Linked DNA regions of Homo sapiens: region 2 is linked to region 1. Evidence: fine-mapped expression QTL. A gene starts in region 1. The other region holds a variant in brackets. All regions are shown on one strand. Distances are from middle to middle. Region 1 holds the start of EEA1 (early endosome antigen 1). Region 2 has its middle 20 kb from the start of LINC02413.

What was found. PIP is the estimated chance that this variant, and not a neighbour inherited with it, causes the effect.
Region 2: its variant is fine-mapped to the expression of EEA1 in fibroblasts (GTEx, PIP 0.95).

Annotation. Positions count from the first base shown.
Region 1 is chr12:92,926,951-92,932,171 of GRCh38, forward strand. EEA1 (early endosome antigen 1) reads right to left here and starts at 2,345. Exons shown (of 29, transcript NM_003566.4): 1 at 2,093-2,345. The coding sequence starts at 2,116. RefSeq lists an enhancer at 505-634 and a silencer at 1,735-2,814.
Region 2 is chr12:92,968,217-92,973,709 of GRCh38, forward strand. No RefSeq gene overlaps it. Among named protein-coding and RNA genes, the nearest start is that of LINC02413, 20 kb to the right of the region's middle. RefSeq lists enhancers at 2,546-2,615, 3,096-3,145 and a silencer at 5,443-5,493. The variant G/A (reference allele first, on the strand shown) is at 2,846.

The sequences.
Region 1 (5,221 bases):
TAAAGGGAGGACCCACAGCTTAATCAACTGTTTCCTACCCCTTAGCATGAAGCCTGGCATTTACTGAAACTCAATATAAATACACTGAATAAAAGAAAATTAAGTACTTAACTGTGAGAAACACTTCAAACTTTCCTACTAAAGAGTTAATGCATTTAACACAGTGATTCTCAACCAGAGGCAATTTTGCCCCTAGGGGACATTTGGTAAAATCTGGAGCTATTTTTGGTTGTCACAAGGGGGAAGGGATATAGGGGAATGCTACTGGCATCTAGTGGGGGTAGATGCCAGGGATGCTGCTAACATCTTACAAGGCACAGGGCAGCCTCCCACAACGCAGAATTATCCAGTCACAAATGCCAATAGCGCCGACGTTAAGAAACTCAGTTGTCAACTGACTTATTCAGAAGTGATGATTCAATATCACATCTCTGCAATAACCACAATCAATTTCACTTTTGTAGTTTCAACAGAAGCTTCTTTAACAGTTGATAGGTATGCACCAACATTAAAAATGATCTTCATATAATCTCGATGTTTAACTTTAAACCAAGATTACTAGAAAGCATCCCATATTTCTGAAAACCAATCTATAACTACAGCTGAGCTACCCTTAAACCAGTAAACACTTTTATTTGTAAACTTCAAAGCAAACCACAGGCAAACTAATTTTCACTTGCAGAACTATGACAGAAACACAATCTGAAACATGAGGTAATCAGTTCCTCCAGGTCTGATAAAAGAAAAATCTCCTAAAGCCTGAAAGTAAATCATGCACAGATGTCTTTACTGCTGAACTAAGGAAGTGATGGGGAAAGTAAAGGACATGCCCTTGTTACTGCCAAAATCATCGCTTACCGGGATTTCAAAATTCACAAAACACTGCAAAATACAATTAAATGTCAACACAGGTTGTCAGATAAAGAAGTTAACTATTTCTCCCTCTAATAACTGACCAAGTTTCACATGACTTCATTCTTTCAGGAGAAAGCTAGGCAGAAGCAAGAGCACTCCCTTCCTATCTACTGGATGACTCAACTCTCTTCCGCACATTCCTCGGCTGAATCCTACAAATTCACTAATTTCTTTTGTCCTTTGAACTAGTTATCCTACTCCCTCGGTAAAGAACTAATAGGCTCGGCACCTACTTTTCAATCATTTACATTTTGTTACACCCTATCAGCCTCAAAAAGAAAAGAAAAAAGCTATACCAAAAAAAAAAAACAAATTTAAGTTGACAGGTACAATAACTCTTACAGGAAAAGAGATGTGAATTATGTTATTCTAGTAACTGATTCTTAAATGATACACCTACAGTTTTCTAATGCTCTAATCTTTCTATCCTCAAGGTTTTCCAGATTTCAGAGACAGCACAGGCAGAAACTAAGTGTATATACCACTTGATCAAGCTTACTGCGGATTTATTCTTGGATAGCTAAAATAAGGTAGTGGGGCTTGCACAGAAAACATATTTTTAATTAAAAAAAAAGTTTCCAACAGTGAGTAACATCTTCCTTCTCGGCTGACTGTGCCAGTGTCAGTCCCACGCCTGGGCCCAGGCTAGGCCGGGGCTCACCACACCACCCTCCACTGTGGTCCAAAGGAGAAAGCAGGGCCGTGTGTGGCAGGTGCGCATCGTGTCAAATTGGGGGGCACGGGGAGTGCGGCGGGTGGGGAAAGGCGAAGCAAGCCGCCCGAATCTCCCATGGGGCGTTCTCCAGCCCGGCAGGCGGCGGCTGGCCCGTCCCACGGGCACCAACTCTCCATTTTCACTCCCACTCAGGGTTCCCGGGAGGAACGCGCCGGCACCACACCCTCCAGCTCGCAGCCCGCTCGCACACACGGAGCCCCGCGCCGGAGCGGGCGCCAGGCCTGGACGCGCGGGGCCACCAGGGCTCTGCCTGCCGCCCCGCCGCGCCGGCCCCACCCGCCCTCCCCGCCCCCGGGCCGGGCGACCGAGGCCTAAGCGCCTGCCGGGCTGTGGGGCCTAGGGAAGGAAGGAGCCCGCGCTGAGGAGGGGCGCCCGCGCCGCGGCCCCGAGCTCCGGCTGTCCCGCTCACGTGCTGCCAGAAAGACGGTTTCACTCTCTTACCCTCTGTAAAATCCTCCTTAACATGGTTTAACCACCACCCGGCGCCGCCGCGGTGACTCTCCAGACCCTGCGCGGGGCCACTCACTACTCGGGGTGCGCGGGCGGGAGGGACTGGGCCGGGAGGGGACCGGGAAGGAGGTCGGGGCGAGGCGGTGGCGACGGCCGCTCGGGCGGCCCCGACTTCCCCACAGGCGGCGAGAGGGAGCACGCGAGAGAGAGCGAGCGAACGACTAGGCAGCCTGCGAGCGCCTCCAGCCCGCCCGCCGGGCAGCCCCCGTAACTGACAGATGGGCGGGCCCGCCCGCGGCCGCCGGGGGGCGGGGCGGTGGCGGGCCCGCCCCTCGCCTGTCCATTCGCGGGAGGCGGGGCTGAAGGGGGCCGGTCCAGGCCAGCGACCAATCGGAAGCGGTGGCAACGTGGGCGGCTGCGTGACAGACAGGCGGCAGGACGCTGTCGCCGCAGCTTCTTCCGGCTAGCTGGGGGACGCCGAGGCTGCGGAGTGCACGCCTGGGCTCCGTCAGAGGGCCGCGCCCGCGCGACGACCGCGTGCCCGCTAGTGGGAGGCGGGCGAGGACCCCTGGGGGTGTCCCTCCCTGACCCAGGCGGGAGGAGGGGACGCCTTAGGCTGTTTTGTAAAATGTGTCGGTGTGACCCTTCCGGCGATGGCTCCTGACTCGACGTGGTATTGAGCCTGAGCTATATGCTAGTTTCTGCTGGAAACGCTGACTCTGCCTCTTAGCCCCTGGGTTGAAGCCGACTAGAGAATCTCAGACGTGCTTAACCGGTCTGTTGGGCTTCCCTGCCCTTTTCCAGTCCCAGGTTTCCTTTCCCTGCTCCCTTCCTGCTTCTAATTTCAGCCAAAGAGAAAGCAAAGATTTAGAAAAGAAGGGTAGGAAGAAGCTGGAATTTGAATTGGCAAGAGAAGTTTGAGGTTGTCTTTTCTAGATCAAAACAATTTTTAATAGGCTGATGTTCACATGTTGCACTTTCTAAAGCCCGTGCTTGACCTCCTAAGGAATTTTAAGTCCTATTCTGATAATCGATTTATGAAGTAAATTGTCATTAACGCCTCTGTTTTATAGATTAAGAAGAAAATGAGGTCACAGATAAATATCGTGCCAAAACGACGTGGTCTTTGAACTGACCTCCAGGCACGATGTCATTATTTAACTCGAGAAATCACAGCTTCTGCGTCCTACCATTCTGCCAATATTCACAGCCAAGAGGCTCAACTTAACACCCTGGTAGAAAAAGAGAAGCCTTTAATATTGCTTGAATAGGGAAGGAGAGGGAATAATGGAACTAACCTTGCTGGGAGGGAAAAAAAAAAAAAAAGAAAAAACCAACAGACCACTGAATGAAGCCTATGAAGCAATGAATGGAGTGCTTTTTGGAAAGCACTTCCAGATCTTTTGAAAAGCAGCACAAAATTAAATATTATTTGCAAATCAGTTAATGAATAGGAAAATGTTTTGTAAAGTATAATGCATTATATAATGTAATATGATATTTCTATCCCAAATATATTTGGTTTTTTATTATGTGTGTGTGTGTCTCTCGATGGTGCAGCAGCACGGTCATGCCTACAGCTAATATATGAGTAATCACTAGTGATAATGCACTTACAAAGAACATACTTTTCCATCTTTCTAAACATGAGGTGCTTTATTTTCAGACAATATGGGAAACATTCTCAGCGACATGGGGTGATAAAAGTGACTTTTTTTCTCTTTTTTGTTTGTTTTTCAAAAATTAGTTTAGGGTCAGGCACACTGATTTTATGCCTGTAATCCCAGCACTTCGGGAGACGGAAGCAGACAGATTGCTTGAGCTCAGGAGTTTCAGACCAACCTGGACAACATGGCAACAACTCGTCTAAAAAAATATTAGCTGGGTGTGGTGGCATGCGCCTGTGTTCCTAGCTACTCAGGAGGCTGAGGTGAGAGGATCACCTGAGCCCAGGGAGGTTGAGAATGCAGTGAGCTATGATCTCACCACTGTACTCCATCCTGGGTGACAAAATGAGACCCTGTCTTTAAAAAAAAAAAAAAAAGTTTAAAACTGCTTATTAATGTTACATGCTAAGACCTTCTTTACTGGAATTCTCATGTAGAATCCTTTGAATAATATAATAGGCTCTCATCTACAGCTGAGCTAGATGGATTATTGGAAAATCTGTGTACTCCCCTGCACAGTTCATGATAACTCCATCACTGGGATAATACACTGGAGAACTTAATTACTCCAAAAGAAAATAAGCAGTGGGTGAGAGCTAACCATGTAAGAATACCCTTCACTAATCTAGCAGCTTCCTATACATAGCAGTTCTGCTTACCCTGTCTGACCACTAATTCCCATCCGTTCAGCTCTTGTGCATTAATATTCCCCCACCATCTATTTACTTTGATCCCCAGCAAGACCTCAAATCCATTGGCCCTTCTTACTTTCTTAATATCAGTCATTTCCCTAGCCTACTCGTTTCCATCAAAACCCAACCTAAAGCCCATGGTCCAACTTTACAATCTTCCCTTTGCAAATATGCTTAACTTCTTCACCTTTCTTTTTTTTTTTTTTTTTTTTTTTTTTTTTAGATGTAGTCTGTCGCCCAGGCTGGAGTGCAGTGTGCAATCTCACTGCAATCTGTGCCTCCTGGGTTCAAGCAATTCTCCTGCCTCAGCCTCCCAAGTAGCTGGGACTACAGGCACCCACCACCATGCCCAGCTAATTTTTTGTATTTTAGTGGAGATGGGGTTTCACCATGTTGCCCAGGCTGGTCTCAAACTCCTGAGCTCGGGTAATCCACCCACCTCTGCCTCCCAAAATGCTAGGATTACAAACATGAGACACCATACCCGGCCACTTCTTCACCTTTCTCTTCCTCCATTGCTTTTGTCTAGCAGAGGCCAAACCCTGGTTAAGTTCAATTAACCACCTACTCTCTGCTGCACAGGATCCATAGGAATAGAAGGCTGGGCACAGTGGCTCACACCTGTAATCCCAGCACTTTGGGAGGTGAGGGGCGTGGATCACCTGAGGTCAGGAGTTCAAGACCAGTCTGGTGAACATGGTGAAACCCTGTCTCTACTGAAAATACAAAAATTAGCCGGACGTGGTGGCGCACGTCTGTAG
Region 2 (5,493 bases), 41 kb after region 1:
CTTCCCCCAGAGCAAGCGCTGGGGAGTGGGGACCCATGATGGAAGTGAGTCTTTTTATTACCTAATCTCAAAATGACATCCTATCACTCTACCATATTCTATTTGTTAATAGCAAGTCATAAGTTGAGTCAACACTCAGGAGAGGGGGATCACACAAGGACATGAATACCAGGAAGCAGTGATCATTTGGGCCATTTCAGAAGTGTTTGCCACAGGGATATATTGCAATTGCTGTTTTCCTTCTTTTCTCCAAGAAATAATATGCTCCATGGGAACAGAGATAGTGTCTTGTTCATTGGGAGCATTCCTAGCACTGGACATAGTGCCTGAGACTTAAACTGCTCATAAATGTTTCTTTGAAGGAAACGAAAAAGGAAGGGAGGGAGGAAAGGAGGGAGGGAGGCAGGAAGGAAGGGAGGAAATGAATCAGCATGAGAAGATCAGGGCACTTTGCTAATCCATAGAAAACAGGAGATGGTTCTTTGGGGAAGGAAAACTCAACCATAAAAAGGATTGTGAAGAACAGAGTCAGTACTTTTATTTATTTCCTAGTCTTGAGCATAAATGAGCTTCTAGGAAAGTGGAAGCACTCTGTGAAGAGACAACGCCCACCATCTTGCTCCCAGGGTAGCTTCTGTGGATGGTGGAGAGCTGAGCTATAAAATAGCACAATGTGTTACCCATGGAAGGGCAGTCCTGGTTGAGGTTCTTAATTGTGAATGTACAGATTCTGTTGAATGAATTGTGATAACCTCCAATTATCAGGAAAGAATCAATTAGGGAGAACTCCTTGGTGCTTTTTTTCACTTGCACTTGCAGAGTGCAGCAAGAAGTTACACTGAATGCACATAGACTGCTAGACTGCTTTGGCATTTAAAATTATAGAATAAACATATCACTTTGTTAGCATAATTCTTTTTGTGTGTGTTGTGGGGGTGACAGCATCTTACTCTGTTGCTGTGGCTGGAGTGCAGTGGCACGATCTCGGCTCACTGCCTCAAGGGTTTCTTGAGGCACCTCGACCTCTGTTCAAGGGTTTCTCCTGCTTCAGCCTTCCGACTCGACCTCTGTTCAAGGGTTTCTCCTGCTTCAGCCTTCCGAGTAGCTGGGATTACAGGTGCCTGCCACCATGCACTAATTTTTGTATTTTTAGTAGAAATGAGGTTTCACCATCTTGGCCAGGCTGGTCTTGAACTCCTGACCTCAAGTGAGTGATCTGCTCACCTCGGCCTCCCAAACTGCTGGGATTACAGGTGTAAGCCACCATGCTCAGCCTTTGCTAGCATAATTTTAATGGCTCCATAATATTTAATCTAACAGATATGGCACAAGCTGTTTGGTCATTACTCTACTGTTGCATTTATGGGTTGTATCCATTTTCTTCTTTTTTTTTTTTTTTTTGAGACAGAGTCTCACTGTCGCCCAGGCTGGAGTGCAGTGGCGTGATCTCAGCTCACTGCAACCTCTGCCTCCTGGGTTCAAGCGACTCTCCTGCCTCAGGCTCCCAAGTAGCTGGGATTACAGGCATGCGCCATCACACCTGGCTAATTTTTCTATTTTTAGTAGAGATGAGGTTTCACCATGTTGGCCAGGCTGGTCTCGAACTCCTGACCTTAGGTGATTCACCCACCTCGGCCTTCCAAAGTGCTGAGATTACAGGCATGAGCCACCGCGCCCGGCTGGGTTGTATCCATTTTCAACTGTTATATAAAATGCTTCAATAAATGCTTTTGTAAACTTATCTTTCCACAATTGTATAAATATCTCCTTAGGTTGAATTCCTAGAAATGGAATTGCAGGGTAAAGAGTATGCACTCTGTGTGTGTGTGTGTGCATATGCATTTGTGTATACTGTCAAATTGCCCCCAGAAATTACGTATAAACTTTCATTCCCAATTTATAGATGTTTATACACATTTGATGAGACAAGATTTTAGCTGGGCTGGGTGCAGTGGCTTACATCTATAATCCCAACACTTTGGGAGGCTGAGGTGGGAGGATCCCTTGAGTCCAGGAGTTTCAGATCAGCCTAGGCAACATACGGAGACCCCATCTCTCTCTCTCATTCCATATATATATATATATATATATATTTTTTTTTTTTTTTTTTTTTTTTTTTTTGAGACAGAGTTTTTGCTCTTGTTGCCCAGGCTGGAGTGCAATGGCGTGATCTCCGCTCACTGCAACGTCCGCCACCCAGGTTCAAGCGATTCTCCTGCCTCAGCCTCCTGAGTAGCTGGGATTACAGGCGCCTGCCACTGCACCCAGCTAATTTTTGTAGTTTTAGTAGAGATGGGGTTTCACCATCTTGGCCAGGCTGGTCTTGAACTCATAACCTCATGATCCACCTGCCTCGGCCTCCCAAAGTGCTGGGATTACAGGCGTGAACCACCGCGCCCGGCCCCCGTCTCTATATTTTAACTTTTTTGTTTAAAAAACGTTTTAGCTATTTTTTTAAAGTTGCCAATCTGGTAGCTGAAAAATAATAACTTATTGTTTTGATTGTATGTTATAGTCATTAATGCTCCCCCCAAGCACATGATAAGATTTAATTTTATGAGCTGGGCATGGTGGCTCATACTTGTAATCCTAGCACTTTGGGAGGCTAAAGCAGGCAGATTGCCTGAGCTCAGGAGTTTGAGACCAGCCTGGGCAACATGGCAAAACCCCCTTTCTACTAAAAATACAAAAAAAATTAGCTGGGCGTGGTGGCACATGCTTGTAGTCCCAGCTACTAGGGAGGCTGAGGCACGAGAATCGCTTGAACCTGGGTGGCTGAGTTTGCAGTGAGCCGAGATCACACCACTGCACTCCAGCCTGGGCAACAGAGCGAGACTCTGTCTCA[G/A]AAACAAAAACAAACAAAAAAGAGATTTAATTTTATGGCCCTTGAGGTTAAGCGGGGCCATGTGACCTGGTCTGGTCATTGAGTTGTGAATAGCAATGGTATGTGTCACTTCTGGGTTGAGCAAGACCTTTCAGAGTTCTCTTTCACTTCTGCAATTGATTACCAACAATGTTTCAGAAAATGGCCTGGGTCCCATAATTGATTAACATAAACATACTCTGTTCAGTTTGATAGAACAACATGGAATAAAGACTCTAAGTAAGGCATGATGAGTATGAACAAAAAATATGACTTCTTTGTTGTAAGCCACTGAGACTTAGGGTTGAGCGTTATGGCAGCATTATCTACACCATCCTGACTAATACATTAAACATCTTTGCTCACTACTGAGACTAAACATATTTTCCTGTATTTATTGACCATTTATTTGGACTTCCCTTTTTGTGAATTTTCTGCTCATGTCCTTGCATGTTAATTTTTTAAACATATGACGCTCAGCTACACATTTGTTAAACCTGGACCTGATCATCACTGAGGTATCAGGGAGAAAGATGAAGTCTGTGAACTAAGAAAAATAGATGTATCACAATAGTCTCTAATACCCAGGGCAAGATTTCTCCAATCTACCTTTAAGGATCTGAAAATCCTTTGCCACAAATTGTTTTTTTTTAAAGCCATGTGCTTTCATTCAATGATAATGTCAAAATTAATAGAAGCATATTTTGGATCATTTGAATGGTCACTTTATAACTGAAGGATGTTATTTACTTTTATGATCAAAATGGTTTCTTATGGGCATCAATACCACTACTTTTATCCACACAGACTCATAAGAAAAAAACAAATGTGAACATAATACATAATGTAATGTTTTTGCACCAAGTGAGGGACAAGTGGTATTTCAGCATATTGTACACAGTAAGATCAGAGGTTGCACAGCAGAATTACTAAAGAAAATTGTGGGAGCATTGGGTCATCCCACAGTCTGCAAGCAGGCTCAGCTCAAAAGAATCTGGCCCAGAACACAGCACCACTTTCACATTGTCACTTATCTCAGTTATGGTCCTTTGCTTGCAAACAACAGACATAGATTCTGACTAATTTAAGCAATAAAGAACTGATTGGAATAATACAAGAAAACACAGTATTCAAGCAACAAAAAGAACAAATCAGGCTCAAAAAGAACCAGACTAGGGGATCTCCAGGGGCTTCAGTACCAGAAATTCCTGAATCAGTACATTTTGGATGCTGCCAAGAAAATGACTCAATGACTCAATCCAGTCTTCTTTTTTTTTTGAGACAGGCTCTTGCTCTGTTGCCCAGACAGGAGTGCAGTAACCCTATCATGCCTCACTGCATCCCTGAACTCCTGGGCTCAAGAAAATCTCTTGCCTCAGCTTCTTGAGCAACTAGGACTATAGGTGCATGCCACCACGCCTGGCTAGTTTTTTAAAATTTATTTTTTGTAGAGACAGGATTTCGCTAAATTGCCCAGCAATCCTCCTGCCTCAACCTTCCAAAGTATTGGGATTACAGGCATGAGCCACAGTGCTGTGTCCATCAACCCCAGTCTTCTATCTGTGTGTCTTTATGTTCTAGATTCAAATTTCTGGCTTCATTTGGGTCATATGCTCTTCATATGAGTGGGGTAGGGGGAGGATGTTTGAGACTTCAAAATACTCAAGACATCTGGATGCTTAATGAAGAAAAAAAGTTGTTACAGTGGGGCACAGTGAGTTCACACCTGTAATCCCAGCACTTAGGGAGGCCAACACAAAAGGATTCCTTGAGTTCAGGAGTTCAAGATCAGCCTGGGCAACATGGCAAAACCCCATCTCTACAAAAATACAAAAACTGGCCATGCATGGTGGTGTGCACCTGTAGTCCCAGATACTCGGGGGACTGAGATGGAAAGATTGCTTGAGCCTGGGAGGTCGAGGCTCCAATGAGGTGAGATAGCACCATTGTACTCCAGCCTGGGCTGAGATCCCGTCTCAAAAAAAAAAAAAAAAAGTTTATATATCTCAAAGAATGTGTGAGATATTAAGGGTCACTCCTAGAAGGTATATGGGATTTAATCCTTCCTGAACAGAAGAGTGGATGGGACCTTTTTCTTATAAAGACCTTTTCTTTTCTTGCTTTTTTTTTTTTTTTTTTTTTTTTTGAGAGATGGAGTCTTGCTCTGTCACCCAGGCTGGAGTGCAGTGGCGCAATCTCGGCTCAGTGCAACCTCCACCTCCCAGATTCAAGTGATTCTCCTGCCTCGGCCCCTACCAGTAGCAGGTACAGGCGTGCGCCACCATGCCCAGCTAATTTTTGTATTTTTAGTAGAGACGGGGTTTTGCCATGTTGGCCAGGCTGCTCTCAAACTCCTGACCTCAGGTGATCCACCCAGATCGGCCTCCCAAAGTGTTGGAATTACAGGTGTAAGCCACTGCGCCCAGCCCATGTTATTTTATTTATTTATTTATTTATTTAAGACAGGCTCTCACTCTGTTGCCCAGGCTGGAGTGCAGTGGCATGGCCATAGCTCATTGCAGCCTCGAAATCCTGGTCTCAAGCTTTCCTCCTGTGTTGGCTTCCCAAAGTGCTAAGATTGGGGAACTGTGAGCCACTGTTCCCACCTGCTATGAACATCTATGTCCATA